4 separate regions of the Homo sapiens genome follow, and regions 1, 2 and 3 are each linked to region 4. The links come from fine-mapping of genetic effects on gene expression. A gene starts in region 4. Each other region holds a variant in brackets. All regions are shown on one strand. Distances are between the middles of the regions.

What was found. PIP is the estimated chance that this variant, and not a neighbour inherited with it, causes the effect. A credible set is the group of variants that fine-mapping cannot tell apart.
Region 1: its variant is the best candidate, but not a certain one, in a credible set for the expression of LINC00539 in whole blood (INTERVAL, PIP 0.74).
Region 2: its variant is the best candidate, but not a certain one, in a credible set for the expression of LINC00539 in whole blood (INTERVAL, PIP 0.64).
Region 3: its variant is the best candidate, but not a certain one, in a credible set for the expression of LINC00539 in whole blood (INTERVAL, PIP 0.67).

The regions. Positions count from the first base shown.
Region 1 is chr13:21,308,226-21,316,050 of GRCh38, reverse strand. The region is part of intron 2 of LINC00539 (long intergenic non-protein coding RNA 539); the gene reads left to right. It also overlaps the pseudogene MIPEPP3. Among named protein-coding and RNA genes, the nearest start is that of LINC00539, 33 kb to the left of the region's middle. The variant T/C (reference allele first, on the strand shown) is at 4,987.
Region 2 is chr13:21,325,080-21,332,904 of GRCh38, reverse strand. LINC00539 (long intergenic non-protein coding RNA 539) reads left to right here. Exons shown (of 3, transcript NR_103841.1): 2 at 2,247-2,331. It also overlaps the pseudogene MIPEPP3. Among named protein-coding and RNA genes, the nearest start is that of LINC00539, 16 kb to the left of the region's middle. The variant G/A (reference allele first, on the strand shown) is at 5,510.
Region 3 is chr13:21,317,199-21,324,422 of GRCh38, reverse strand. The region is part of intron 2 of LINC00539 (long intergenic non-protein coding RNA 539); the gene reads left to right. It also overlaps the pseudogene MIPEPP3 and the pseudogene GRK6P1. Among named protein-coding and RNA genes, the nearest start is that of LINC00539, 24 kb to the left of the region's middle. The variant T/C (reference allele first, on the strand shown) is at 2,145.
Region 4 is chr13:21,340,874-21,348,698 of GRCh38, reverse strand. LINC00539 (long intergenic non-protein coding RNA 539) reads left to right here and starts at 3,840. Exons shown (of 3, transcript NR_103841.1): 1 at 3,840-4,033. It also overlaps the pseudogene MIPEPP3. RefSeq lists a silencer at 1,899-2,102 and an enhancer at 5,988-6,491.

The DNA of each region.
Region 1 (7,825 bases), 33 kb after region 4:
AATATGGAAGTTTCTCAAAAAAAAAGGAAAAATAGAACCACCATGTGATCAGCAATCCCATTGTGAGGTCTATATCCAAAGGAAATGAAATCAGTATCTTAAAGAGATATCTGTTCCTTGCAGCATTATTCACCATAGCCAAGATACAGAAATCACCTAAATGTCCATTGACAGATGAATGGATAAAGAAAATGTTGCATATACATATGCAATGAAATATTATTCAGCCTTTAAAAAGAAGGAAATTCTGTTACTTGTGACAACATAAACCTGAAATCCAAAAATGTCAAACTCATAGAAACAGAGAGTAGAATAGTCGTTACCAGAGGCTGAGTGGGGAGGGATATGGGAAGATGTTGGTCAAAGGGTATGAGCGAGGTCTGTTATGTAAGGTAAATAAGGTCTGGAGAACTACGTACAACAATGTGACTACAGTTAATAATATTGCAGACTTGAAATTTGCCAAGAAGTTAGCTGTTAAGTGTTCTCACCAAATCAAAAAATGATAATGATGTGAGGTGATGAACGCATTAATTTGCTTGATTGTTGTGGACAGTTTACAACATACACATATATTGAATCACTGAATTGTACACCTTAAATATATACAATTTTTAATTGTCAACTATACCTCAATAATGTTGGAAAGAAAGAATAGTGTGAAATATTTTATATAAATGTATTAGCTTCTTAGGGTTGCCATAATGAAAGTACTTCAAATTGGGTGGCTTAAAACAACAGAAATTTAATTTCTCACAGTTCTGGAGGCTGGAAGTCCAAAATCAAGGTGTTGGCATGACCATGTTCCCTCTGAAACCTGTAGGGGATTCCATGCCTCTGCTAGCTTCTGGTGGTTTGTGGGTAATCTTTGGCATTTCTTGGCTTGCAGCTGCATAACCTCAGTCTCTGCCTCTGTTGTCACATGGCATTCTCCCTGTGTGTGTCTCTGTTTTCACAGGGCTGTCTTTCATTCTTTTCTTTTCTTGTTTTTGTTTGTTTTTTGTTTTTTTTAAGACAGAGTCTTGCTCTGTTGCCCTGGCTAGAGTGCAGTGGTGCAATCTCGGCTTGCTGCAACCTCTGCCTCCCAGGTTCAGGTGATTCTCTTGCCTCAGCCTCCCGAGTAGCTGGGATTACAAGTGCCTGCCACCGTGCCCAACTAATTTTTTTGTATTTTTAGTAGAGACTGGGTTTCACCATCTTAGCCAGGCTGGTCTCAAACTCCTGACCTCATGATTCACTCACCTTGGCCTCCCAAAGTGTTGGGATTACAGGCGTGAGCCACCGTGCCCAGCCCGTGGCTGTCTTTCTGTAAGGACATCAGTCATGTCAGACCAGGGCCCACCCTACTCCAGTATGACCTCATCTTAATTTAAGTATACATTTGCAACAATCCTGTTTCCTAATGAAGTCAGTTCTGAGGTACTGAGAGTTAAGATTTCAACATCTCTTTCTTGCACGGGGAGGGGAGACTGATTTAGCCCCTACCAATAAGAGAAAAAATACTATAGCACAGTCTGGATGTAGTGATTTCTTTCTACAGTCCACACACACACACACACACACACACACACACACACAGAGCTGATGCAAGCACATGCTGTCAATGCAAAGGAAAAAGACAGATGTCTCCCTACGCTTTTCTAAGCTTTTATATATTATACCTCACATTGTCAGCTCTAAAATCCTGTATCTAATACATTTATCTATCTAATAGATTTTTTAGATCTAATACATTTATTTATTTGGTAATAAATAAATAATAAATTTACCAACTGTCTTGGTGAAAAGGAGTGCATGCTGGATGACGGATGAGGCCTTGAATAATGGCCTTCCCTGTCACTATGGCCACTCTCCACTCAAGGATCTATTGTACAAGAATTGGGGTGGCTGGGGACAGAGATGACTGACATCTACCAGCCAGTTAGCCGGTTCCTCTGTCTACCTGCTTAGTGAGTGTCCTGTCTGTGCCAAATCTTCTCTAGTGGCAATGATGTGAGACACAAAGATCTGCACATTTTGTGGCCACTTTCAACAGTTCATCTACATGCTTCTTCCCAGACCACTTTGTCTCTGATCATCTAAACTTGCCCCTTCTAAACCCCAGACCAAGACCAGCCAAGTTATTTGCCACTACATGGAAGTCCATATATATCCTTATCTCATACCACTTCTGGCATACAAAGTGGACAAACAAGAATACTGCTCACAGCTCTACCCTCTAGGAGGGTTTCCCCTCATCACTGTCCTTTAGGGCCACCACTGAGTTGGGTGGTAGTGTTGACAGCTGCCCATTCTCAGGCAGCATTGAGTATCTGAACCAATCTATCCATGAACCAGGAATGAGCTGTGTTGTTCCTCCTTCATCAGTGAATCATAGAGTTCCCTCACTCCTGCCCCCATATTTATAGATGTGAGCTGAGAGACATGTCAGGACAGCAGAGGTAGGTGACATGGAGCCCTGGGCCACCCTATACCCTCTGGACTTGCTCAGATCTGGTCCTGAATATACCATTTCCATCATACCTTACCACCTTGTTGGATCTGACAATGTCCAGCTCGTAATAGGAAACTCCTATCATATAATCACTTGATGTCCCACTTTCAGGTGCTTGATCTCTCTTGACCCCTTATCACATCAGAAGCTGTTTTTCTGAGTAGTGAGTAATTAAACAATAAATAGTCTCTTGAATGGAGTAGACATGCCTTTCTCCAGAACCCTACCCATTCTGTACTGCAAATCTATTAGGGTTTGTCCAAGATTTCCTATAGCATCCTTTCCTACCATGGATACCCCGAGCACTGTTGGATCTGTTGAATTATATGGCCTCAACAGCAGAGTATGTTGTCCTGAAGCCTAGAATTTCTTCAGTTTTCTTATGCTTTGGGTTCCACTCAAAACTGGTAGACTTCTAATGACCCAAGAAATGAGTCAAAGAAATAATCTCAAGTGCAATATTGGCTGCCTCCTAAAATCCAAAGTCGCCCACCAAACCATATAACTTTTCATAGGGGTAATTGTTTACCTTAGGATGCTGCAAACCATGGGACTCCTAAAATCTTCATCAATATGGCAGGACTTTGATACTGTAAATGATTTATGTTTCACCTTCATGTGTTTTACTATGACATCCAGAGTACCGGCCACTTTCTGTTCACCAAGTCCAATTAGCATAATGTCAACAACATAGTATACCAGCATGATATGTCAAGGTGACAGAGAGAAAGAGAATACATATAGCCTTGGGGAAAGACAGTGAATGTGTACTCAAATCCTTTCTTAATGAGACAGAACTGATCTTGACCATCCTTCCTGAGGAGGTTGGAAGATGACTTGTTTGCCAGATGGATAGCCACAACCCAGGAACCAAAGGCTGTGCTGCTCTGTTCCAGTAAAGATACCACATCCAATTAGGTAGCTACATACAATTGGGACGCAACTTAGATAACGTTCCGGTAGTCTGCTGTTATTCACGAAAATCCATCTGTTTTTTGCAGAGACCATGTAGATGGATTGAATGGGGATATGATGAGGATGACCACCCCTGCATTTGCTAAGTTCTTGGGAGTGGCATCGATCTCAGCCATTCCACTGGAATAGGGTATCGCTTTGATTTTCTATCTTTGGTGGGAATGGGCACTTTCTGGGTTTCCATTTGTTTCTTCCTTCCTGGTTCTTATTTCACAGGTCAGGAAACAAAACGTGAGGGCTCTACCAGCTGCTCAGTCTATCCTTTCCAATTGAGCACACTGGAACTGAGGAAGCAAAGACAGGGTGAGCCCTAACACCCTCATCATCACTGCTGAGCCTGCCTTGACAAGAACTCCATTTATCACCCGCCTCCATAATAGCCCATTCTAACTAGCTGTCATCGTGGCATTTCAGGTTCTGCTGATGTCATTGTAAGGTTAGACCCTGTATACCCTGAAAAATCTGTATATTTCCATTTTCTTAGTGTAAAGTTACACAGGTCCCTTTGGGGGAAGGTTTGTGGCACTGCAGGGTTTTTTTTTCAAGGGGGCCCGGCCTCCCCTTCAATCACTAGGCCAGGGGCCCGAGAACTGACTCAAATCTGGGAGCTAGGTGAGGGATTATCATTTTTCTTTTTGGCAGCAGACATCAGATTTCAGCTTACCTTCTCTTAATATTTTTTCTGGTTACACAAGTCAAGAAATATTCACAGTGGGTACTCACCCATCTTTCTTCTAGAAATGCCCTATGTGTACAGGACCCTGGCTGGCACGTTGGCCTTGCTGCCATATGGTAGTCATATTCACTTTGTGGTAGTCATATTCACTTTGATGGCAAATGCTGCGACTTGGCCTCTGCTACTCCAAAATATCTTCATCTTCAGTAATATTAGAGAGGTCAGTTCTGTGGCAGCATTTTCTACTGTGAACCATAGACCACGGAAGACAATCACTAGTGAGATTCCCAACAATGCTGGTGGCCCCTCACCAGTGAGTTTCTTGTTTTTGTATAAAGGGCATGTCCTCTTGGCCTCACAGGGAACAAGATCAGGGTCTCTGGTCTTGCATAATAAAACCTCCCTGGACTGTCTGACTCCTTCCTCAATACCATGCCATGGCAAATATGGCATCTTTCCCCCAGGGAAAGATGATAAGGCTGTCATCTTATCCAAGCTTCAAGAAACCTCTGACCAGCATTATTAGGATAGGCACAATTGTCCTTTTGAGGACAGTGAATTATAGGATAGAGTCAGTAGACCTTCCCTAGTCAATCTTATGTATAATACCCAAACCTCCTGACCCAAAACTCTCAAGATCTGCCCCCTATGTGTTTCTCTGACTTCTCCTGGTAAGAATTAGGCCCTTCAACTCCTGATGAGTAAACCAGTCATCAAATACTTGGTGAAGAGCTTTCATCAACTGCCTTTGCAATGGGACTTCATTTCCTTCTCTGGGGTTTTGCAGATAATGGACCTTAACTAGTGGGCTGAAGGCAATGAGGGGATGTGAGGATGCATC[T/C]TGTGAAGGACAAAAGTCATCCTGTAAGTAGTCCCCTCAGGTGAGGACTTCCTGTGGTACCCAGGTAATGGAAAACCACAAATCTGACTGGAGGTCTCGACATCCTTTATAGCAGTAGACCAAATGTTAGCTACATCTACCAACACTTCCAAAACTTTTTATGGAACAAACAGCGACAAATACCAAATGCCAAGTAACCAAGTTACAACACCTCACTTCCTTTAGGCGGTGCTGTCAGAAGCATGGTTCAATTCTCACTTTCAAGTTTGAGGTAACTCTAGACCCACGCCCTGCCCTCCAAAACTGTAGAAAAAATACTGCGAAAGATGTCTTCTTCATGTTCCTCAAGGTAGTTATTCTCACCCAGAGAGCGGCAAGTACTTGGAATCTTCCTGATATTTTTTTCTCCTCCAGAGTTTTAGTGATGAAAGATGTTGGGAGAACACAGAATGCTAAGCCCCACAAATCTTGCTGGAGAGATCTCCTAGAGAAATCAGAATCTTTCAAGATTGTTTTAGAGAAATACGCTACCACTCTGACTCCATTCTAACAACTCCTCTGTGACCCAGCTGGCCTGACAAACTAAATCATGATACTCTGCAAAACATATCCTTTCACACATGAATGCCCACGGCAATGTTTCCTAACCATTCATGAGTCATAAAACCTATGGCAGAAACCATTCTACGTGTTCACCAAAACATTTCATTTTCCCTCTGGGCACCAGGAAAACTTTTTTTTTTTTTTAACTTTTTCTAATCTAAGTGAGGCTATGTAAGGAGTTCTGCATAATAAAATGTGGGCAAAATTGATGTCAGCCACTTCCAGATCATGCCCTTAAAGTGTCCTACAGAATTATCATCCACACTCTATGTCTGTTATCATTAGCTGTCAGGATGCAGAGTATCAAAAAAGGACTTTAACTTATTTATTTATTTTTTGAGACGAAGTATCACTTTGTCACCCAGGCTGGAATGCTGTAGCGTGATCACAGCTCACTGCAACCTTGACCTCCCAGGCTCAAGCTATCCTCCCACCTCAGCCAAAGTAGCTCACACTACAGTCGCATGCCACCACTCCCGGCTAATGTTTGTATTTTTTATAAAGAGGAGGTTTCACCATGTTGCCTAAGCTGGCCTTGAACTCCTGGGCTTGAGTGATCTGCCTGTCTTGGCCTCCCAAAGTGCTGGATTACAGGCATGAGCCACCATGCCCAGCCCAAATGAAGAACTTGGAGTCCATGGTGAAAGGCAGAACCTCCCCAACTCAACTGAGCTGGTCATGAGTGAAAAGTACATCTTTAAGCCACACCTTTCAAATGGGTCAGCAAATTTGATAAATTTGGCAAATTTCAGCTATTCCCACCCACTACGTATACCTCTCTTACAATTTATAGTAAGGGAATTAGCACTTTCTATGGGAATTTAAAAGGTGTTAAAATATATACTGGGGGGAAAGAAATTTAAGAAAAAGTGGTGGTTCTTAATGGTTTAAGAAACTTAATGGTCAAACATTTCTAAGAATGCTTGCCCCTGGGTAATATTTCTAACTGGTCAAGTCACAATTATTACAGAATGGATCTCCCCAGTATCAATTGCTTCCCTATAGCTTCTATGTGCAGCATATTTATGCCCTGAGTGTATAATGTCTGGCCGTAATGACAGGAAAGGTTGGATTCTAGGGGTGGAATACATCAAATCGCTAGGATGTCACCAAGCCCACTGTGTGGGTTAAATGCTACAGGCAGAGGGTTGTGCCACCCATTCCCCACCTTCCCTAACTCCCATCCTACCCAAAGCTTCAGCCAAAAGGAAGAAAATGCCTCCCACATGGCCACAGGCTGAAGTGCAGCCCCTCGGTGGCCAGAAGTCACTCACATGCAGGCAAAGATGATGTTAACAATACAAAGAATCAGAAAAAGACTGAATTCCTTAGATCAATCTGTTTAGCTTCAAAAGCTAGAATCTCAAAAGTCTATCTCCTGCTGACTTTATTTGTCTTTCAACTTTTCAATGCCATTGCTCCTGCCTGAACAAAAGACAAGAAAGTCCAGTCTCATCCCAGAATAGACAGAGCTCTACACCACTGCGGGACTAGAGATTATTCCTCATGCTGGGCAGGGCAGGGTAGAAAGAATAGAACCCATCAAAGCAAGAGGTGGCTAATTCCCCCAACAAAACTAAATTAACAATATTAGCCCAAGTGAGGAAGCTGAATCTTCTCAGGGTGTTAAACAGTTTGTTCTGTTTTCTATATTAAAGACCCAAGTGTAGTTTATTGTTTTTATGGAGCTAAGTTAATTCACATGTTAAATTTAAAAGGTTGGGTGAGACAGGAGATTTTGTTTGTTTCTAGTATTATTTGGCAGAGTATAAAAGTCCCTGGACTTAGAATTGGAAGGCTTGGCCTCAAATCCACACCCTTCCTGGTACCAGCCCAGTGCCCCTGGGCAATCACTCAACCCATCTCCTTCACTGGCGGTTGTGGCAGCCCTTCTCAAGCAGCGTTGAGAGACCTTAGCTCCCTAACCCAGTGGTTCTCCAACTAGCGAGTGCTCAGAATCACCTGGAGCGTTGGTTAAAACAGCACTGGGACCAGTCCCGAGTACTCCTGGAATACAGCCTGAGAATTTGCCTTTCCAGCAAGTCCCCAGCCTGGCTGAATGCCATTCCCAGCCCACCCACCCCTGGCTCCACTTTCTCTTGTACTAGCTGATATCGGAAATTCCACCGAGAGCCCCAACCCAATTTAGCTGGGAAGCTTTACTCTTATTAAAAGGTACATACACGAAACAATATTAGCAGTTAGACTGTATCTTTCACGTCTTATCCTTCTTTAT
Region 2 (7,825 bases), 16 kb after region 4:
CAGAGCCCAAGTCCAGAGGCAGAAAAGCAAACATTTTTATCTTGTGGCTTTTTCTTTTTTTTTCCAAGAGAAACCTTCCCAGAAGCCCCATCAGCAGATTTCCTTTTTTAGCTCCATTGGCCCAATTGCGTCACATGCCTGAACCAATTGTTTAGCAGGGGAAATCACTCCGTCCTCTCTAGCTTCAACCATGAACTCTCAGTCCTGGGTAAGAGGGCAGCCTAGCCTTCCCTAAAGGACTTGGTAACTTGGAATAAGATGAACAAAATCAGAGTTCTATGAACAACGAAGTTGGGGGATGGCAGAGGGGACAGCGACTAACACGTCCATGTTAAACAAGAGTTCTCTGCTTTCTCTTCTTGAACTTGAGGGGCACAGCCTTGGGGATTTGGGGGATGCCCCTTTGATCATCTCATTTCTTCTCCTTGGTAGCAAGTAATTGATAGAATCACACCAGAAAAAAGAGCAAAATATGACAAAGAAACAACTTTAATACAGTGAGGATACTGGGGAACAGACCAGATGTGAGCAGACAGGGAAGTCTTTAGCAAAACTGTGGAGTGCCCAAAGCTTGGCTTCTGATGCGTGGAGCCTTTCCGTTTTGTGTTCTTCCTCCTCACTCCACATCCCACCCAAGAAACCTGGTATTTTAATATTCTCCTCTTTGCTCCATTAAAGCATCAAACATATTCACACAAGGTTTACGTGACCAAGGAGTGCAAGATAGGGATTAAAAAATAGACTTGAAATACCAGCTCTGCCATCTGCTAACTTTCTGACCATTTTGGGCCTCAAGTTCCTCACCAACAAAGTGAGAATAATGATACTACCCAGCAGGTTGTTACCGCTATGTTTATTAGTGTTCATCCTATTGGAGCAAGCTGACTGCTAACAACTTTAAAATCATGATGGCTTAACACAAGTTTGTTTCTCACTAACACAGAGTCTAGTGTCGATGGTCCTGATCGGGTGGCTTTCTGGTGACCTGAGGACTCAAGGATACTGCCCTTGCATTTTAAGGTGCCACTGTCTTCAACACAGGATCTTTAGGTTTTCGTTTGAAAGTTGTGGCTGCTTTAACTTGGCTTGGAAGCATTTCGTTGTTGAGAACTAGGACCCGAGATCCAGGGTGGGAGCTGGAATAGAAAACTTTGCTATGTGCCCAGGTAGAGATGTGATGAGCATCAAGCTAGTCTCTGCCACATTATTATTATGGCTGTTGCTGTTATTGTAACTAATCCTGTGTATTGAAACGGCAGTCATTTTCCAGATGTAACTACGGACCCTAACAGTTCACTGATGTTCATGGCCATAATTCCAGGAAGCCATTTCTGAGAGCTTATGTACCTTAAATCCCAGTTTGAGGTGTCTAGGGAAGAGACAATAGTCCATTAAGGATGACAGCAGGGAAGTCTAGTAACTTCTCTCCTCTCCACGATACTTAGCATGGTGTTGGACACAGCAGGTGCTGACCCAGTGACTGTGGCACTTACTCATGGTGGATGCACTACTCTATTTCCTTGGGTCCCTTTCCCATTTTCACACCCCTTGGCTCCACGTTTGCTTTTACTCTCGGTATCCAGAACCCATGCTTCTTTGTGAGAGGGCTGCCCTCATGCTTCTGGAGTCTCCTTTACCTGTGTGCAGAGAGAGTGGGGGATACCTAGAAACATGCATCCCTCTGAGATGGCCCTTGACCAATGGAGGGAGGGGCTCTCAGTCTCCAAATCTCCTCTGTGGGAGGAGCCAGTGCCCTGCAAGCACGGGACCTTGCTTGACATTGCACTCTTGCTTGGCTTCCTTCTCACTGTCTTGCATCCTCACTTCCCTGCAGGGGACACTGCCCAACACATCACTTTCTCACAAATCTGCATCTCTGGGATGCTTCTGGGGAACCAGCCTGAGACAGGAGGTAAGCTGAAGAAGCAGAATTTTGAAGATTCTGGGCTCTGTTTGAATGGAATAGCTGAGACGGGTCTTTGAGAACATCAGTATTTGCCTCCCACCTCAGTTTTTACATTCACAAATTAAAGGATCACACAGGCAGACTTTGGTATGATATGCAGTTCCTGAGCAGTGTTGGGACTCAAAGACGTTTATGGCAGCTCATCAGCCTGCATCCAGTGCTTCAAAGGGTTCTAAGAGACTGGCTCAGCCAACTGCCAGCCTGGTCATTTCGAAACTGAAATGAAAGCAGCAGAGAGAGTTATATTTATCAACTGAGTGAGACTTGCTTTTCTCAACAGGATATTTACGTTGTGAACTGGTAAAATCTGAACTGCAGAATATCAATTTCCAGACATTCTTCCTAGATGATGCCGTCTGCCACGGGTGAGTGTTTTCAGCTTTATGCTGACTATGTATTAATATAAAGCCATTCCTTACTCTTCTACCTTAATATATAGTCTCCTTGGTTTTAATTAGGTCTCTCCTTGCTTCTGAACTTCTGGTTTTCCCCAGTAATGTTTAGGAATGACCTCAGACCAGGTACATACAAGGTACAACGTGGTATGTACAAGGCTGTACCTCAAGCCACGTGAGAGGCTACCTTGGCCTTGGGCACTATGGTGAACACTGTAAAGTGCCACGTAGATCCCCTCAATAAGGACTTGCAGTCCCAGTGGTGCAGAGTGCTGCTGGCACACAGAGGTTGCCTGGGCTGCAGAGAGCAGCCTTACTGATGTCACACCCCTGCCCATGGCACCCAAATCTAACAACTGATTGATGTGGACACATAAAGATCTGGCCATCTCAGACCAACTTAAAACAACTCTGAAGGGCCATTTGAGCTTCCAAGCCCTGCACCTGTGGGACTGACCAAGGCTCTCTTTGACCTTGGCTCAATTTCTGTTTCTGCATACTGCTTCCTCCTCTTTACACAGGTGTTGACCCCTTAATAGGCATTCTACACAAAAAACTCCATCTTAGAGTCTGCTTTCAAGGGAACCCAACTTGTAACAGTCACATTTCCCTCCCTCACCAGCCAGACTCTCCCTGAAGACATCAGGGAGGAATAAGTAGAGTGGTCCTTCAGTGCTGGATGCAGCTTGGCTCTTGCTTTCAAACCCTCTGGGTGTCTGGTAAGGATAGGATAAGGAGAAAGAAGGGTGCAGTTTGAGGATTGTATGATGGCAGGGCTACCTCATTTTGATGCAGGGAAAGGGGTAAAGAGGCCTTCGCAGTCTCTGCAGGGGCCCTGCATTATAATCCCTGAGCATCTTTAACCGGGGCAGCTCTGTGTTCATTCCAGACATCGTCCCTGAGGGCTCCTTCTCCCTCATCCTCACACTCAAATGCTGAAGAGGTTAGCAAGTCCTGCTGACTCTTCAAACTGTATTCTGAATCCATCTACTCTTCTCCCTTTCCTCTGCCTCCACCCTAGCCAAAGCCACGACCATCTCTTACCTGGCTAAAGTGTGTCTTACCTCCTTGCAATTCATTCTCCTCACTATAGCCAGAAAGATTTTTGAATACTGATATTTTTCACTCCCAGGAATTTCACTGTTTCTTTTCATAATTGCCAGCTCTTGATTGTAATGATCTCCTCTCATTTGACATATAGATACCCACCCACATCTCTCCAAAATACGAAGTATACAGATTATAAGTTTCTGTTCTGATTTGACTATTAGCTCGGTTTCCTCAGTTATAAGTTTTTTCTTTTGTGGAGTCTGGTGATGCTCTTGTATGGAGTTTAGCATCTTCAAATGGTTGATGTATTTAGATTGTGTGTAAAGCTCTGTGCTTTCTGCTTGTTGTTGAAATGCAGCCTGGTTTCCTGCAGGTCCCTTGGGGTGTGGGTGGGAGCTGATGCCTTGGCTTGCATTGTGGGGAAGCTCAGCACAGACCACAAGGCAGGGGCTCACTGTCCCACCTGCGTGTAGAGGCTGCCTCTTCCTCCTGGGTGTCATCAGCCATCCAAAGCTCTGACCTGGTCTCCACCCCAGATTTCACACTGACAGGTACTGCTGGGTGCAGAAGCATCACTTCCTGACCTGGAAATCGTTCCTAATAATGCAACCGAAAGGCCATCCCACATTTTTTTCCTTCACGACACTGACCATAATGAAGAGTTAGTAAATATTTACTCATTTATGGCTGTATTTGCCCACTAAAGCAAGCTCTATGAAGGCAGAGATAAAGTCTGTTTGGGTTACCACCAGGTACCCAGTTCTCGACACTGCATTTGACACACACTTATTTCAAGAAATCGTTATTGAATAATGTGTTGTTTAGGCTTCCATAACACCTTTCATTTAAAGAAAGGGTTCTTAGCTCAACACAGTTTGAAATCAACCACGAGAGAGGACACCTTATCAAAGAAGGAGCAAAGGACCTTGTGCTTCTGTGTAGGTTCTGTGGGGAAAGGTACCTGGTGAGGTCTGCTGCACAGGCCCCTTGTCCAGAGGGAGCTGCAGTCCTGCCGCTGTCCTAGGCTGACTTCACCTTCCCGAGAGCAGGGAGCTCATTTTCCTCTGAACTCGCAGACTGCTGCCTGCAGAGAGGCGGAGCCTGCAGAAACTGCTGCAGGGCCATTATGGGGCATTCCAGGAGACGATTACATTAGCTGCTGGGTCCTGGGGGGCTCAGCAGGCAGGAGGTAGAAGGAAGGAGGGAGGAAGGGCTTCAGCCTGCACCGCTTTTGAGTTATCCTGAGGTGCCAGCACCCCCAACCCCTCATCAGCACCACTGCCATCTGCACCCACCTGCCCACTGCTCTTCGCAGTGGTTGCCAGCAGTTGGTAAGGGACCTTCCAGAAAAAGAGAGTGTTCATGCCACTTGAGGAAGAGGGGGCTGTAGAGATCACAGCTTCTCTCCGCACCTCATTCTATAGCTAAGGGAGCTGGCCCAGAGCACAGATGACTGGCCCAACGTCACACAGGCAGTAATAAGTGGGGCTAGGGCCAGGATGCAAAGTTACTGATCCCCAGGGCACTGGGACTGCAGCAGACTGCCCTCTCCTTCTCTCTCTTTTCCTCCTGTTTCATCCCCTTTCACCTTGTCTGCTTCATCTTGTTCCCAGCCTCTTACCACTTCAGCCCTGTGCCACCACTACAAAGACACTACCGCACCACTGACACCCCAGGCTCCTGGGCCACTACCATGCATTTTGCCTACTCCTGCTTGGGGCTGAGGGGCTTGCTGGCCTCTGACCAAAGCTCTCTCTATGGTTTCAAGCAGAATCTGGGAGCTGCAGTATTAATAGCAGGGAGGGCCTGCACCAGCCCAGGATTCCCACGCCTCTCCAGGAGCACTGGTGATTCATTTTACTCCCAGGCTCGCTCTTATCCCAGGAGAACAAGAGCCTGATTCCCAGATTCCAGATCCGATTCCCTGAGATGAGAATATTCCTGAAGCCCCTGGACTGTGCATGGCTTTCATTTGACAATCTCGAACACATACCTTTGTCTTTATCCTCTCTGATCGCCTTCTGCCACAGCTCCTCCTGCTTGCCCACCTCCCCCAAACAAGATCATTCCCTTGAGTCACTCTCATATCTGACATTAC[G/A]CCTCGACTCTTGTACCCAGCACACTGTATTGCAATGACCTGCTTCTTTCTCTGTTTCTTAGTCCTTTCAGGGAGCACCTTCAGTGCAGAATATGTCTCCAGCACCTAAAGAGCTGGCGCTGAGAAGGTCCTCAATCATTGTCGGTTGCAGGGGATCTGGCCACCTGGGATCCAGCTCTGTGGTGCAAATGGGAGGAAGGGAGGCAGAGCCAGGTTTCCCATCCCCAAACCGCCCAACCCCACCTCCCACCTCCCACCCTCAGTTGGAGCCTAAGGTGACAAGGGGCTGCTGCTCCTACCTTGCTATGTTACAATTTTCTAACTAACCAGAGCCTGTCCCCTCAGATGAATGTGTGGGAGGGAGAATAGCCCGAGTGAGGAGGCCCTCCCAGCATTCCTGACCAGCTGGGGATCCTGGCGGGACGGATCCTCCACAGGAGCGTTTTTCTAGGGTGTGTTCTATGGAACGCTGGACCTGTGATGTGCTCCGGGAATAAAAGGTTCAGAGGTTGCTTTTGGGAAATGCCGCTTCCTACAAACCTGTCTGTCCCTGTTGTAGCTTCACGGTACACCCTGCAGCACGAAATGTGAATTGTAAAACAGTAAAAACAAAACATTAACAGCGGGGGACATTCCTCTGCTGACCCCAAAGTTCAGCAGGTGCGGGACAGGGGAGGGGCGGGCTCTCTTGTCTGCATCAGGCTTGGGGAGCCATCTCCGCCTCGGGGCTCGCAGACAGGGCTTCTCTGCCAAAGCAGCACCTCGGGGCGTGTTCTCCCACCCATCTGTGTTCAGGCATCCCTTCCCTCGCATCTGGATTTTGTTTAGGCCTATTTGCAATTCCTTAAAAAAAATCTAAGAAATAGTTGGAGCCTGAAAGAGAGCTGGCCAATGAAACGCCCCGTTGGGGCATTACCGCATCGGTGAGTGGCTGCCCTGAGGCGATGGCTGCGTTTCCGGGGCACCGCCGTGCGCCGGTGCCCACGCGTACCAGGCTTCAGGGGAGCACTCGGGAAGCGCGGGGGGTCGCGTGCCCTTGGCCGGAGGCCTGGTCGCCCGCTGGCCTCGCCATTCTCGGCTCCGCTGCTGTTGCCTGCGCGCCTGTGGCGGAGCAAGCCTGCCTCCAGGGCAGCCTCACTGCCGGGATCCTGGGCAGACCTCCCACGTGATAACCGTGATCACGGTGTTGATGCTCACTCTGGGGCAAGGGTGCTCACGTGTTCTCGTAATTGGGCGGAGTAGCCCTTCCTTCAAAGTCAGCCCCGGTCCCCTTGCACTGTGCAGCCCCTCTCTGCCGGACCCTGCCCGCATTAAATCTCCCCTTAACCTCTAAAATGCTCATTGCCAGCGCCCTTCGTTTGGTATTTGTAGCAGATACTGTCTCCTGCTGTAGCGCCATGTCTGTTCCCCCTTTCTACCATGATATAAAACCTCCTGATTTTTAGCTGGGCGCATGGTTCTGGAATCATGACTATGTTCCCAATTCCCTTGCAACTAGATGTGACTAAGTTCTGGCCAATGGGATGGTCATGTTCTACTTCCAGGAAGTGTCCCTAAAATAAGGGAATATGTCTTTTTAGGTCCCTTCCTCTCTCCAGCTGTCTGGAATGGAGCTACCATGTCTGGTGCCCAAGCAGCCAGCTCTGACCCAGAGTTAACATATTATGGATTGTGGAGCCACAGGATGGAGTAGCCTGGGTCTGATGGTTCTGTTAGTCAAGGCTAGTCAAAGAAGCAGGACCAACAGGAAATACATATGTTTATGTATGTATATGTTATGTATATGCTATGTATACACATACACACACACACAGATACACAGAGAGAGAGAGAGTTAAGAAAGTGGATCATGTGATTGTGGGGCTGGCAAGTTCAAAATCTGCAGACCCACAGAAGAGCTGATGTTGCAGCTCAAGTCTGAAGGCAATTTGGAGGCAGAATTCCCACTTCTTCAGGGGACCTCAGTCTTTTCTCTTAAAGCCTTTTACTGATTGAATGAGGCCCACCCACATTATGAAGGGTCATTTGCTTTACTCAAAGTTTACTGATTTAAATGTTAATCACATAAAAAAAACCTTCACATCAATGCTGGTGGGTGATTGAAGGTGGTAAGCAAGGAGTGCCAAGGTCAAATTTGGATTTCAGAAAAATCTCTCTGAAACCAGTGATGGGTAGAGGAGAGTGAGATTGCAATCAGAGAGTCCGGTTAAGGGTTGATGTATAAAGATAGGTAGAAGATAGATACAAAGGGACAGTGGATGGTGGGAAGAGGAGAACTGAACAGCACATTGGCAGGAGGAATAAGGAAGAGGGAAA
Region 3 (7,224 bases), 24 kb after region 4:
GTCTAAACCCATCCTGGCTCAGGGCCCTCCCAGTCTCCTGCACTGAGCAAGCAGGTAGGGAGAGAGAAAAGAGGGGTGGTCTGGAGTTTTAGGATCTGCATTTGAATCTCTCCTCTTGATTTGTGACCCTGGGCAAGGCTCTGCCAATCTCTTGTTACCTAGCACCTGGTCTATGCCAGGTCCCAGAGCTTTTTGGGTTCTATCTGGGCCTCAGCATCCACATTGGACAAAAAGGGTAAATATTCCTGCCATGCAGGGTTATTATGACAAATGCAATGAAATAATAAATGTGGAAGGGCTTCTCACAGTGCCTGCCTCAGAGTGGAAACTCAATAAATACTAGGGCATTCTGTGTCTGAAAATCTCACCTCTAATTATTCTCTTTTCCTTCCCTATTATACAAAACAGCAGCAGCAGTAACAGCGACCACAAAATGCACTCCAAGATACTTCTAACCATTTCTTGCTGGGGGAATGTTTGCATCCTTGGTTAGTTAAAACTTTTGTGTTCCTCCCATGTCAGAAGCCCCTGGATCTTGTGTGAAGCTGTGCATTCCCTGATTAGTTTGTTTCTGTCCTTCTGTGGCTTGTTCTAAAGGGCTTTGCTGCTGCCTTCATCTGGGGAAATTCACACACTAATGCAGTGGTATCTCATCCCAATCTATTAGGTGTGACAACTACTGGCAAGAAATAGATTTGTGTTTAATTCTTTGTTGCCCAGCAGGGACCTCTATCACCCAAAGGGAAACAGCCGTCTATCTACGAAGCTGTGATCTCCCCTACAAGCAAGAGAACTCAATTGCCAGGAGGTCTTTGCTTTTTCTGGCTTCCAGAGAATGCAGAAATTTCAAGGAGCCACTATTGGGCTCCTTCCCTATAGGATGTTGGGCCAGGCAACAGAACAAACCTCCTGAGGCACTTCTACCTGGGAATGCCCTCCTGAGGCCAATGGCAGCCCTCTGATGAAGATACTATAGTATTTATTTTTTGTACACGCTGGTGATCATCCAGTGTACATCTCTGCTTAGTGAACCTTCATGAACTGGAGGCTGAATATTCTCATCCTGCATTGATAGAACCACGTAGGCTGGTTCTAGGCTGTTTTCTGTGCAACACTCAACATGACAATAATAATGATGATGATGCTAATGATGATTGTAAAATCCGCAGTAGTTGCCATTTATTGCCCTATTTGGCTTGTAAGACTTGGCAGATCACAGTGACATACACACACACACACTCTCTCTCTCTCTCTCTCTCTACTGTGTGCCAGGGACTGGACAAAGCACTTTGCATGCATTATAACACTTTTCCTAACAATCCTGCAGCAGGCAGCAGTAGCATCCCCGCTTTATAACTAAGGAAGGTAGAGTTCAAAGAGGTGAAGAACTTGCCTTGAAGTTCAAGGCCATACAGCCCAAAGTGGCAGAATCAGACCTGTACCCAAGTCCATCTGCACAAAGCTGGCGCTTCCACCCTGTACAACATGGTGTGTTTCCAGTGGGCTGTGACTCTCTGGTGGTGGAACCAGCCTTGTCAATTGCTGTCTGCCACATCCAGTCTGACCTGGCTGCCTGGGCATTCTCCCACGCCACGGGCAGCAGTGGTTCTTGCTGCCAGGGCTCCAGGGCATGGGCAGCAGATGGGAGGGAAGGAAGGCCAGCTGTGCAGCTCTGCCAAGCTGAGAGGCGGGGTGCCTATTGATTGACTGAAATTCGATTTGTTGACACAAACTGCCAGCATTTCACAGTGATGAAAGGATGGCCCACCAACCTCATAACAAGCAGAGATTTCCCTGAGGGTCACCAGAGCTGCTGATGTGGCTCCTCTGTGAGGAGAAGAAAGCAATTAGGAGAATGGATGAGGTTATTAGGTCTTATTGCTTCCCTCAGCTCCTGCACACACTGAGTGCTGTGCGGCGTGGGATTTCAGGCTCCCTGTCCTACGTGCTGCGGATTCTGTTTGCGCCTCTTCCACTGCAAAAAGCCAGCTGGGGGACAAACAGCTCATGTACGCTGACTCCAAGCATGTGGAGAATGCACACACAGATTTAGGACACCAAAAGAAACCTGCAGGTGGAACCAGCTTTAGCAGACTTTAAAAATAACAAGATCATTGGAGTATAAATACAAATCCATGAATGCA[T/C]GAGGCACACCCGTCTCTCCCTCGCTTTCTCCATCCCTTTTTATGTTTTGTCACATTACAAATATTTAGACTGGTTTGATTTAAAAGATCTATTCAGGTAAGCTGGCCAACTACACGTCTATGCAGATGGGCAGGGGAGGAAGAGGAGAGGAGGGTATGTTCTGTGAGGACAGCATTGGTTTAGCAAGTGTTTATCAAAATCTGGAATATGCACAGCAGTAGGGGTGGGTGTATGAGGGGGAGAGGTAAGAAAATATCAGGAATAATGTCACCTTATATTGTATAAGTGGGTTTTTGCAGCAAAATATACATAACATAAAATTTACCATTTAACCATTTTAAGTGCACAGTTCAAGAACATTAAGTACTTTCACATTATGTATGGCACAGCCATCACCACCATCCACACCATCCATCTTCAGAACATTTTTATCTTCCCCAACTGAAACTCTGCCCTCATTAAACAATATCTCCCTATTCCCCACTGCCCCCAGCTCCCGACAACCAACATTCTACTTTCTGTCTCTATGAATTTCACTACTTTAGGTGCCTCATATAAGTGAAATCACGAAGCATTTGTCCTTTTTTTTTTTGCTGGGCACATGTGTCTAGTGTTATGAGAGGAGTTGGGAATGTTTGAGGGTTGGCCAGGGATGCCCCACCCCCTCCTAGGGGCTGGGCTCGGGCGTTTCTGAAACGTCCCTGAAAGCATCAGGGACCAGGCCCTGGGAGCTGGAAGGTAGAGGCAGACCTATCTGGGCCGGCCGGGGCAGTGGGCTGATGGGTCTCACAGCCGGCCCAATCTCTGGCCACTTTGGCACAGGCCTAGGGGATATACAGGCCCCAGATCCAGCTCTGACAAGTACTGAGAAGGGACAGCTTTAGTCCCCAGAGGGCAGAAGCCTGAGTCCAGGGCAGCAGGGGCAGGCACAAGTCTTACTCAGAGGCTAGGGGTGGTCAGCACCGTGCTGAAGGCTCAGGGGTGTGATCCTCAGCCATCCAAGCTGGGTCGGAGGAGCCTTAAGTTTGGCAGTGGCTCCTCTGCCAGCTCCCGCTCTCCCAGCCAGGGCTGGCTGCCCCCAGGAGCCAAGGAGGGGGCGCCAGGTCTGTGGCAGGAACTAAGAATGCCCTGGTCACTATATACATTGGTACAAATACATAAATACAGAAAGCCCCGAGCTCCACGGAGAAGAGCTGAAGGGACGCACCTTTGTCCCAGGGATGGCCCAGGCCCTGCCAAACTCAGGCAGGCCAGGGGCTGAGGGGGCAGAGGACACTGGGGACAGTTCCGTCTGTGTTCCCCAGGCCACAACTTGAGTGGACAATGGGGAAGTCCACTGTGCAAAACTGTAAAAGGCACTCGGAGTAGCTACTACCGCCCACTGCCCGTGGGGGCCTCTGGCTGGGGGCTAGAGGCGGGTAGGGAGCTCTTCCTCGCTGTCCCCGCAGTTTCCACAGCAATCCTTTGGCGACTGAAGAGTCTCTGCAGCAGTCCCTTGCAGGTGGCTGGCCCTTCCAGTCCAGGTCTGGGGGAACTGAGCCATCCAGCCCAAAGACATTCAGCTCCTGGAAGCACTCAGTCTCCACCATCCCCTTCTGCCAGGGGATGGGCACACTGCCTGTGGCAAACTTCTGGTAGAAGTCTTGGTCGGTAGCCTCCAGCTCCACACCCTTGACCCTAGAGAACTGTTTAATGTCCAGAATATCCTTGCAGTAAATGGCCCGAGGGTCAGGCTTGAAGGGCGGCTCCAGCATGCCGGCTCCCACCCGCTTGAAGTTCAGCTTCTTCAACAGGGGGTGCTCCTTCACTTCGCGGGCACTGCCCCCACGACACCCCAGGCGTTCAGCGGGGTCCTTGCAGAGGAGCTGTGAGCAGGCCTGCGGGGAAAAGCGCTCGGAATACTCCTCGGGGTCCTCCTTCACCAGCCGCTCCACCTCCTCCCGCTTGATCATCTTCTTCCTCTGCTGGAAGAGCGACTGGCCTGCAATCATCTCCTGCGGGAGGCAGCCTAGCGCCCAACAGTCAGAGCTGAAAGTGTACGGTTCATTCTTCACCACCTCTGGAGCCATGTAGCTCACGGTGCCCACACGGCCTTTGATGGTCTGGCCCTCGGGCACGTGCACAGCCAGTCCCAGGTCGGAGACGAGGATGTGGCCGTGGTCATCCAGCAAGATGTTCCTGGCTTCAGGTCCCTGTACACTATGCGCTCCCGGTGCAGGTCCTCCAGACCGCAAGCAGATCTCGGGACGTAGAAGACGGCCTGCGCTTCGGGGAAGCCAGCCCGGCCCATGTGGCAGATGTGGAAATTGAGGTCGCCCCCGTTCATCAGCGTCAGCACCAGGCACAGCGCCTCCTTGGTCTCACAGGTGTAGGCCAAGCTCACTATAAACCTACTGTTCACTCTCTCCAGGATCTGCTTCTCGTTCAGCGCCATGGCCTCCCCTTTCTGCTTCTTGATCCGCTTTTTTTCTAGCTTCTTGAAGGCGTACATCTTGCCTGTGGCCCGCACCTGGCAGGCGCACACCTCCCCAAAGCCACCTTTGCCCAGGACTCGGTACTGCCTGAAGGTATTTTTGGTCACTGGCTGCCTTTCCAGCCACTTCCACTGCAGGAAACGGTTGAAGTAGATGCTGTTGAGGTAGTCGGCAAAAGGGGCCATGCTCAGGTACCCGTGGGTCACCCGGGTGAGTTCCTGGGAGAGTTCTTTGCAGGGCCCCTGCTCCAGCCGCTGGGTGCAGTTCGTCACCAGCTGCCGGGGGGACCTCAGGGATGAGGTCAGGAACCTGTGGCTCAAGAAAATTCTGCATTAGCCGCCGCCCACATGCCTTCCGCTTCTCATCCGGGGTCGCTTCATACTCGGCCATCCCATCCTGGAAGGCGATGCAACGGCTCAGCTCCGGCCTGGTGGCACAGAACTCTCAGAACAGCAGGCGCCCGATGGGCTGCCGCTCGCACAGGCTGTGATAGTCACGTTCGAGACTGAGCCGCAGCTCTTCGCACTGGCTGATGTGGGGGAACTGGAGCATCTGCCGCCATTTCTTGCTTTTGCCTTTGCGATTTCCACCGCTACCTTCCCGGGCCTTGAGGAGCACCGTGTCCGCTACGATGTTCTCGAGCTCCATGGGCCGCGCTGCCGGCCGGGATCGCGCGCGAGTGCCCAGGCCGGATGGCGATCGGCGCGGCTCTGCTCGGCTCCCAGCGCGGCGGCTGCCACCCACTCCCCCACCTCTCCCGCCCCGCCTCCCCAGCCATCGCCTGCGTTTGTCCTTTTGTGACGGGCTTATTTCACCGAGCATAATGTTCTCAAGGGCCATCCGTGTGGTATAGTATGTGTTGGAATTTCCTTCCCTTTAAAGGCTCAGTAATATTCCATTCTATGGCTAGGCCACATTTTGTTTATTCATCATCGGTTGATGAACACTTGGGTTGCTTCCATCTTTTGCCTATTGTGAATACTGCTACTATGAACATGAGTGTAAAAGGATCTGCCTGAGATCCTGCTTTCAATTTCGGGAGATAATTTCCAGAAGTGGGACTGCTGGATCATACAGTAATTCCATGTTTAATTTTTTTGAGGAATTGCTGTAACTTTTTTTCTACAGTAGCTTCATCATTTTACTATTTTACATACCCACCAGCAATGTGAAAGTGTTCCAATTTCTCCACGTCCTTGTCCACACTTGTTATTTTCTGGGTTTTCTTTCTGGTTCTTTTTTTTTCCATAATAGTCATTCTAATGGGTGTGAAAAGGTATCTCATTGTAGTTTTCATTTGCATTTCCCTAATGATTGGCGATGTTGAGCATCTTTTCATGTGCTTATCGGCCATTTGTATATCATCTTTGGAGAGATGTCTATTTAAGTTCTTTGTCCATTTTTAATTGAGTTGTTTTTACTGTTATGTTGCTTTTTATTTTTATAATGGCTAGGTTTAGAGTTGTGGATTTACCCCATTTTGTGGAGAAAATGAAGGTCATGGAAGTTCAGGAACTTGCCTGATGTCTCCCAGTTGGGTGGGACTGAAGTGCAGCCTTTTGGCTTCTTTTTTTTTTTTCCGTATTTTTCTTTTATTTTATTATTATTATACTTTAAGTTTTAGGGTACATGTGCACAACGTGCAGGTTTGTATGGCATATGTATACATGTGCCATGTTGGTGTGCTGCACCCATTAACTCATCAGCCTTTTGGCTTCTGACCCTGTCTTTCTCCTCTGCTCATGCTGTCTACTCCCAGATGGCGAGATGTGGTTCACACCTTTCAGACTTCACATTTGACTTAGGAACAATACAGGATGACGTAAAAGATGTGTCAAATGAAGGTTACAGAAGATGAATTTTATGGACATTCAGAAAAAGGGGCCTGCTGTATGGGTCATTTGGGAAGGTTCTGTGACAAAGGGGAACCAGAGGTGAACATTAAAAAATAGTGTGATAGCAGCTAACGTCAAAATCAATGGGGAAAAACTGAAAGCTTTCCCTCTAAGATCTGGCACAAGGCAAGGATGTCCACGCTCACCACTTCTATTCAACATAGTGCTAGAAATCATAGCCAGAACAATGAGACAAGAAAAAGAAAGACATCCAAGTTGGAAAGGAAGAAGTAAAATTATCCCTATTTGAAATGGATGATATGGTTATATACATAGAACCCCCTAAAGACTCAACCAAAAACTGTTACAGCTAATAAATACATTCAGTAAAGTTGCAGGATATAAAATCAATATATGCAAATCAGGTGCATTTCTATACATAAACAGTTAGCTGACAAGGAAATCAAGAAAATAATCCCATTCACAAAAAAGATGAGAATACTTAAAAATAAATTTAACCAAAGAGATGAAACACTTGTACACGGAAATTGTAACAACAATGAAGGAAGTTAAAGAAGATACAGATAAGTGGAAAGATACCCATGTTGACTGAAATAATTAATATTGTTGAAATGTCTAAACTACCCAAACTGATTTACAGATGCAAAGCAATCCCTATCAAAATCCCAATGATGTCCTTTACAGAAATAGAAAAAACTACTCTAAAATTCATATGCAGCCAGGTACAGTGGCTCTCACCTCTAATTCCA
Region 4 (7,825 bases):
GTGTGGAGACCCACAGGTGGGGCCTGGGGAAAGTTAAAGATGATGCAACTTAGAGCTAAATGCTCTGTAAGGGCATTGATGACCGCTATGAGCACCTTCACTTCTGAGGGGAAAAGGAGGGGAGGGCAGGAAAGAGGTGTGGGAGGGAATAACTAGGGTGCATGGCTAATTATAGGGCATCTATCCTAGCCCCCACATGCATGGTCTTTGCAATCCAGGCTTGCACCAGGGAAGAGTCCTTGAACCCAGCTGGGCTCTCCAACAACGTGCCTGCTGCAGCTGCAGTGGAAGCTGATAATTGCTCAGAAAGCTCAGACACAGAGTCCTCTGGGGTAAGGGTGTTGGAGAGAACAGTGGCTTGGTTCCCAGGGGAGCAGGCTGCCCCTCCCAGAGAAGCACTGCAGGCCTCCTCCACCTGTAGGCCCAATCTCTCTGCACCCCGTGCCCCATTACTTATCACTTTCCCCCCCTCAGTGTGAAGTGGGAGTTTAATTTGGTGGCCCTTTGAATGCAGGTCTTCCAGGGGAGATGTTCTGTGCTTGCCTGGCCATGGGCTGCTGTTCACAGAAACATTCTGTCCCAGGCCACAGGAGCGCCTCAGAGCCACTCCGGGGCGTGGGCGAAGCGGTCAACAGCGGCTTCCTCCATGCTGCCCTGGATGAATGACTCTGACAACTTGATGGCGGGGCAGCCTGCCACTCACTCAGGAAGAGGCTGCCTCCAGGTGGGGAGCTTGTATGTTTCCCTCTCCGGGCTGCAGCTGTGGCTTGGGAGGTGTCCTGTCTCTTTGGCGGCCTCATGAGGGCTGTGTCAGTCCTGATAAATGGCATAGGATGGGGAGTCCCCTTAATGGGGGACAGTACAGGTCTCCTGTCCATGGGGCTATTCCAGGCCAAAAATAGATTCTACCACTGCAGAATGATTATGCTGGCTCTACTGTGCTTTCTAAGTCATCAAAGGGACTCACAAACGGGTGAGTAGAACTGGGAGGACGCCAGAAGAGGGATGAAATAAAGATTGTGTATGTGTATGTTTCCTTTTGTGGAATTCTACCTGGAGCCATAGGAACGCGACTTACCACTCATGGGAAAGGCTGTGCCCAGAGCCAAGGAGGAGCTGTGGGGACGTCTCTCCCAAGTCATCCGTTCTCCCCATTTAGACTTCATCCTTAGGACGGACCTTCAGGCACCCAGGCTGCCTACTGACCTCCCTGGCATGGGTGGGAACCGGGAGCTCGTTGGTAAGCAGGAGGATTCAGGACTATCGACTGAACCCCACCTCCTCTGTGGCACGCACCGTGCTGTGTCTTTGCAGTCATCATCTCATCACCTCTGCACAGGAAGATTATCTCCCCCATTTTGTGATGAGGAAATGGAGGCTCCAGGTGGTAAGTCATTGCCCAGGCCACACTGCTCCTCAGAGGCAGAGATGAGATCAGAACCCACTTCTGTCTGACCCCAAAGCCTGTGCCAAATGCCTTGCTCAATGGCCTCTTGCAGGAAAGGGCAGTGTCCCATTACAGCCAGACCCTAGCATAGTACCAGGCTCTGCAGGCTCTGTATCACTTTCCCAAGGCCCAGAGGGGGCACACCACAAAATGCTGGGGGCGTAGGAAGAAGATATCAGAAATTCTAGTTGTGATTTCCTATTATCCTAGTAAAATATCAACTTTTATGTCATTTGTGATGCATTTATTAGCTCAGTAGCACATTTATAGAATTTATAAATCAATAAACCTTCGCATTGTGGAACACATGCTTAAGTTCATTTTACTGATATTGAAAATGAGGAAAAAGACTAGAGTCACATGTTCAAGACAGTGACCAGGGTCCACCCCAGGGCTCCTCGGGGGCCAGAAAGGACGGCTTGCCGAGGGGGCCTCCATCTTCCCTGCAGCATTGTTTGTTCCCCGGGATCCTTCCAGGCCTGCTCGACTCTCATCTCAGTCCCCTGTGCATTTCTGTAGGAAGCTCACTTTTACTAGACCTGAGAGGGCTGGTTGTGTGCTCTGCTGCTGTTTGCCGTCTGCGGGGGCTCTCCAGTGGTCCAGTGGGCATTACAGGAGCACAGGGAGGATGAGGGGAATGAAGCGGGGAGTGAAGGGCACACACACTTAGACCCCACCGGCCACCTACAGAAGGCCTGAGGGGACAGCCCTTTCTGAAGTGATGCCTTCCTCTGTTGGGAAGCCAGGAGCCTCCCCTGGTGGGATCCATGAGGCCCTGGGTGTGGGGCAGGATATGTGGGACGGGCACAGAGCCCCTTCCATTTCCTTCTCAGGCCAGAATCATAACTGTCCATGCATTCCTTAAAAGCAGAGAGGGACCCTCTCCTTCCCCATCCATCAACAGCCTTCGGAGTCTAATTACATGCACGGAGCTTCAGTTCCCTTCTCTGTAAAATGGGGCTAATACTAATAAGACCTCTTCAGGGCAGTGTAGGAAGTCAATGAAACTCCAACATCTCCAAAACCACCCAGCAGATCACAGGATCTTGAAGTAAGCACAGTGTTTGGCATACAGTAGGCGCTCATCAATGCTGGTTCCTTTCACTCTCTGCCACTTGCTGGCTATGTGTGACTTAACCTCCCAATGCCTCCGTTTCTTCATTTTGAAGTGAAAGATGATGCCTATCCTCAACTTCAGACGAGATCCGGCACGTTCAGGGTGGTATGGCCGTAGACCCCAACTTCAAAACAACAGGCACACCCATTCAATTCAGGTAGCACCCTCCAAATGTGCCATGGGCTTAAGAGGCAGGAAGAGAGCCTGGTATGAGCCCACGGCTTCGGCTCCTGTTGCTCACTCTCTGCAGATCCTTGTGCAGTTCTCTGGGGTCACTTGCTGGTCTTTTTGAGTTTCAGTTTTCTTATTTGTAAGCTGGGGATGGTCATATCTCATTAGATTTTTTGGAGGACTAAATGGGACAATAAATATAAAACGCTCAGTACAAAACTTAGTCTATGGTCAGTGTTCAACAAATACTAGTCACTGGTAATAGTAGAACCACCTGCATTATGACACTATTATTTCTAGGCTCTTATGAGGATTCTCATTTACCAGGCATACTAGCCCTGCAAAACGGACACTATTGCTTCCATTATACAGATGAGGAAACTGAGGCTCAGAGAAGCTAAGTAACTTCTTCAAGGTTGCCCAGGCTGGGCGCAGTGGCTCATGCCTGTAATCCCAGCACTTGGGAGGCCGAGGAGGGCAGATTACTTGAGGGGAGGAGTTTGAGGACAGCCTGGCCAACATGACAAAACCCCGTCAATAAAAAATATAAAAATCAGCCAGGCGTGGTGGCACATGCCCGTAGTCCCAGCTACTCAGGAGGCTGAGGCAGGAGAATCGCTTGAACCAGGGAGGCAGGACTTGAGCATGCCACTGCACTCCAGCCTGGGCAATAGAGCAAGACTCTGTCTCAAAAACAACAAAACAAAACCAAACCAAAAAAAGGTTGCCCGGTTGCCCAGTGACAGAGCCAAGTCTTGCTTTCCAAGCTTGGGCTCACTCTCCTACACTAACTACCTGGCCCCATGCTGCCCAGTCCTGGGCTAGCTGCAGGAGGCTGCCGCATTACCCACCTCAAGCCACACAAGCACTGGCAGTAACAAGAGGCCGTAGAGAACCTAGAGTTCTCCAGCGGATGTGGTTCTCTGGCTGCCGTGGGCTGCCAGGGATCCCTTAGATCGCGGACTCCACAGTTCTTTCTTGCCACCTCCAGAAGGAGGCTGCAGCCCCATGAGCCAGGCAGCAGGAAGGGAGGAAGTCTCGCTTCTTGCCAGACACATTGTTTAACTGCAACAGTCAGTCCTCCAAAAACTCTGCCGGAAGTCCACCCCAGAAACTCAAGGGAGGAAACTGACTGCCTTCTTGGGGTTTTCTTAACTGTGCTTTTTCTGCTCTGCAGGAAAGATGCAACCTGGGCCAGAGGCCCCTGGAGGTTGTGCCTGAACCCAGACAGATCACACAAACCTGAGCAGCCATTAGCCGCTGTGTGGGCTCCTTTGCACTGTGGGGCTGCTCCTGGGGTAAGTGTGTGTCTTTGTGTGTGTGTGGGGTTCGGGGGCTGGGATGGCTGACTTACAAAGGACACGCTGTGGCCCAGCCCTGGGCAGCATCCAGCCTGCTTAGGTGGCCTTCTGTGGGCTTGGCCAAAAACACTGAGGCCTTTCTCTGTTTCACCTTCTTGTGCCAACTTGGCTGTGTGTGAACAAAGAATCACAAGCACACACCTGAGTTCACACTTGTGTAAAATTGGACTGAAGAGCTTGGTGAATCAAAGTTCAAGAAGGGTGACTTGGCCGGGCATGGTGGCTCAGTCCTGTAATCCTAGCACTTTGGGAGGCTGAGGGGGAGCAGATCACTTGAACCCAGGAGTTCAAGACCAGCTTGGGCAACACAGAAAGACCCTGTCTCTACAAAAAAATTTAAAAATTAGCTAGGTGTAGTGAGGTGTGCCTATATTCCCAGCTACTCTGGAGGCTGAGGTGGGAGGACTGCTTGAGCCTGGGAGGTTGAGGCTGCAGTGAGCTGTGATCATTCCATTGCACTCCAGCTTGGGTGACAGAGTGGGACCCCATCTCTTAAATTTAAAAAAGAGAAAGGAGAAGGAGAAGGAGGAGAAGGAGAAGGAGGAGGAGAGGGAGAGGAGAAGAAGAAGGAAGAGGAGGAGGAGGCGGGGGGGAGGGGGAGGAGGAGAAGAAGGAGAAGGGAGGAGATGGAGAAGGAGGGCACCTCAGAAGCCCTCAATAAAAACAGGGAGGAAGAGAACAAACACATCAAAGCTGCTGAGTCTGGTGCCAAGAGCAGGGGACTTAAAAGCTGTGTGACTTTGTCATTTGAGTTAACCTCTCTGATCCTCAACTTCTTGTTTGTGAAGTAGGAATAAGATTTTTTTGTGAGTTTGTTCTGAGGCTCATTAGTAACGTACGTAAAGCTGTTGGCTCCTGGTCTCTCTTATCATTCAGGGTTAAGCTTCGAAGTGGGCACAGGTGCTGGCAGCTATGGAATGGTGGGGAGGTTGCAGGGTGGGTCCCCTGGTCACAGAGAGCTTCTCACTGCCAGGGCTCAGAAGCCCCCTCACTGAGAGGCCTCACTGCCAGGGTTCAGAGCTCCCTCACTGGAGAGGGACTTCTTGAGTGTTGCAAGCTACATGGACAGACCATCTATGAGATCAAGCGTCCAGGCCCCTGGGCCAAGCAAATCTTGGGCCAAGATTGTGTGGCTTTAGGGGACATTATGGAGCCTCTGAGGGCCTCAGCTCCTCCTCTGTGAACTGGGGACTGTGGTGGTGATAATGGTACCTACGCATACAGAGATTGACAAGTACTGCTGAAACACAGCTAGGGATGTCTGTCTCACATCAAAAGGCTTTCAAACAGCTGTTTTTAATAATAATAATTATTAATTATATTATAGTTATTAATATTTACTTATATTATTATATGTAATAATTATATATTAATTACATTATCATATTAATTATTAAAAATAGAATAATAATTATTATTAGCCCTGGGAGAAGGTTATCATGAATTTTTTTTGGAGGGAGGTCAGATGACAGCTTGTCAAGGTAACAGAGTGCAAGAGAAGAGCCTGCCTCGGTTGGGGGTGGTCAGGGCCTGGGCACCCCACGGAGACACAGGGGAGCCTAGGGGAGGACTGAGACCCCTTCTCTTGCTCAATCAACTTTTTCAAGTCAACAGTGACATGTGTGCCAGGCTCTGACCCCTGATCACAGCTTCCCCTGACAGGGGCCTCTGTGGGGATGTCTCACAAGGCCAGGGAGGACCTGGAAACACATCCCTCCCATAGGCTACATCCCATCGTCAAAAGGAGACCTCGGGGGACCCACCTGCTCCTCCTGCCTGCCCCTGCCCCCAGCCCAGAGAACCAAGCTGAGCCACCTGCCTGTGCTCCCAAAAAGACACCCCTTCTGTCCCAGCTTGATTTCCACAAAATTACCTGTGGGGCATGTGCTGGCCAGAGGCCAAGTGGGCTCATCTATCTGCCCAGGGCAGCATTTTAGAACAGGGAGTGGAAATAGTGTCCAGGTTGTAACGAGTTTTTGGAAGAGGGGAGGGGGTGGAGAACAGAGAAGGAGGGGGCCAGGGAGCGGGAGAGAGGAGTCACCCGAGGCTTCTCCTCTGCGGCGTTTAATGGGAAAATGAGATATTTCCTAGGCAATTGCTTTTAGGTGACTATTGAAATTAATGCCTCGTTCCAGCAGCACATCTTTGTTAGAACATTAGTCTCTCAGAGGGAGCAAGAAAATGAGAAGGGAAAACAAAACAAAAACAAATTACCTGAAATGAGCCCAGTAGAGAAGGCTGAGGACAGAGGACTTGGGACCATGGAGAGCTTGAGGGTGAACTGACTGTGGGATCATGCGAGGGGCCTAAGCGCTGAGGAGCCTTGGTGGCCTGGCGAGACTGTCCCGCCCAGGGGCTGCCCTCCTCTGCCACCTGGGGCTGGGGTATGGTTGCTGAGTGACAGGGCGACTTGGGGTCCACTGGACGGGTCCTGCCGAAGTCCCTGCTTGGCCTCTGGGCTCCCTGGCCTTCTGAGGTGACGGGGAGGCTCTGAGCCCACACGTGGTCTCTCACAGGCTTTGGGGCTGCATTCACAGTTTCTCAGTTTCCCTGACAGTGGGGGTTCACTGAGATGTTAGGGACCCCTGTAGTGATAATATCCGCTATGACTTATGAGCGCTCCCTACCTGTCAGCCACAGTCCCGGGAGGAGCAGCCTGGGTTCCTGCTGGGGAGAACCCCTTGAGCCAGCGTGAAGGCTGTGACCTTCCCAGGTCTTATGGGCGGGGATTCCTCAGAGAGACTCGTGCCTTGCTTCACTTGAGGCCTGAAAAAGCTCCTGTTTGTTCTTTGATTTGGGAGGGGGCGGGGGTTGCATTTTCCTTGTTTTTTGCTTTGTTTCCGTGCATGTATAGAATTGAGCCAAATGGAATAGATGCTTTAAACTCTGAATGCATTTTGCCATTGCTGTTTAAAAAGCTTGTTCTCGTTTAAATTCACGTCATCAGTGAATGAGAGTGTTTACCTCACAATATCCTCACCGGTTTTATATATCATGCTTTTCAAATTTGTGCCAATTTTAGAGTGGGAAAATGGTTGTGAATGTGAACTTATAAAGGAAATAATTGTTGGCTGTTGTGAAAAATGAATATTTGTGTTCATTTCCTAAAAACTAGAGTTGGATCCCTAAGAATACCCAACATTGTCAAACAACAGCAGGCGGGCCAGGTGCGGTGGCTCATGCCTGTAATCCCAGCACTTTGGGAGGCCGAGACAGACAGACCACTTGAGGTCAGGAGTTCGAGACCAGCCTGGCCAACACGGTGAAACCCCGTCTCTACTAAAATACCAAAATTAGCCAGGGGTGTTGGCGGGCGCCTGTGATCCCAGCTACTCAGGAGGCTGAGGAAGGAGAATCGCTTGAACCCAGGAGGCAGAGGTTGCAGTGAGCTGAGATGGCGCCACTGCACTCCAGCCTGGACAACAGAACAAGGCTCTGTCTCAAAACAAAACAAAAAAACAAAAAACAACAACAGCAGCCACCTGCTTCTTGAGCAGCCTTGAATGTCTGTTCTCCTGTAAGCTCTGGTGAGGAAAATCCTCTCGGAATTTGCTGCCGTCCTCCCCTCTAGGGCTGGGACATAGGATGAGTACTCCAGGCTGGATTTAATAGAGATGCAGTTGGATATCTGAAACATGGACTCCAGCCGGAGGCTAGCACACTCTGTCCTGCCTTGGAAACTCCAGAACTAGAGTTTGGGGGTGAAGTCAGCACAGTTGACACAGTTGT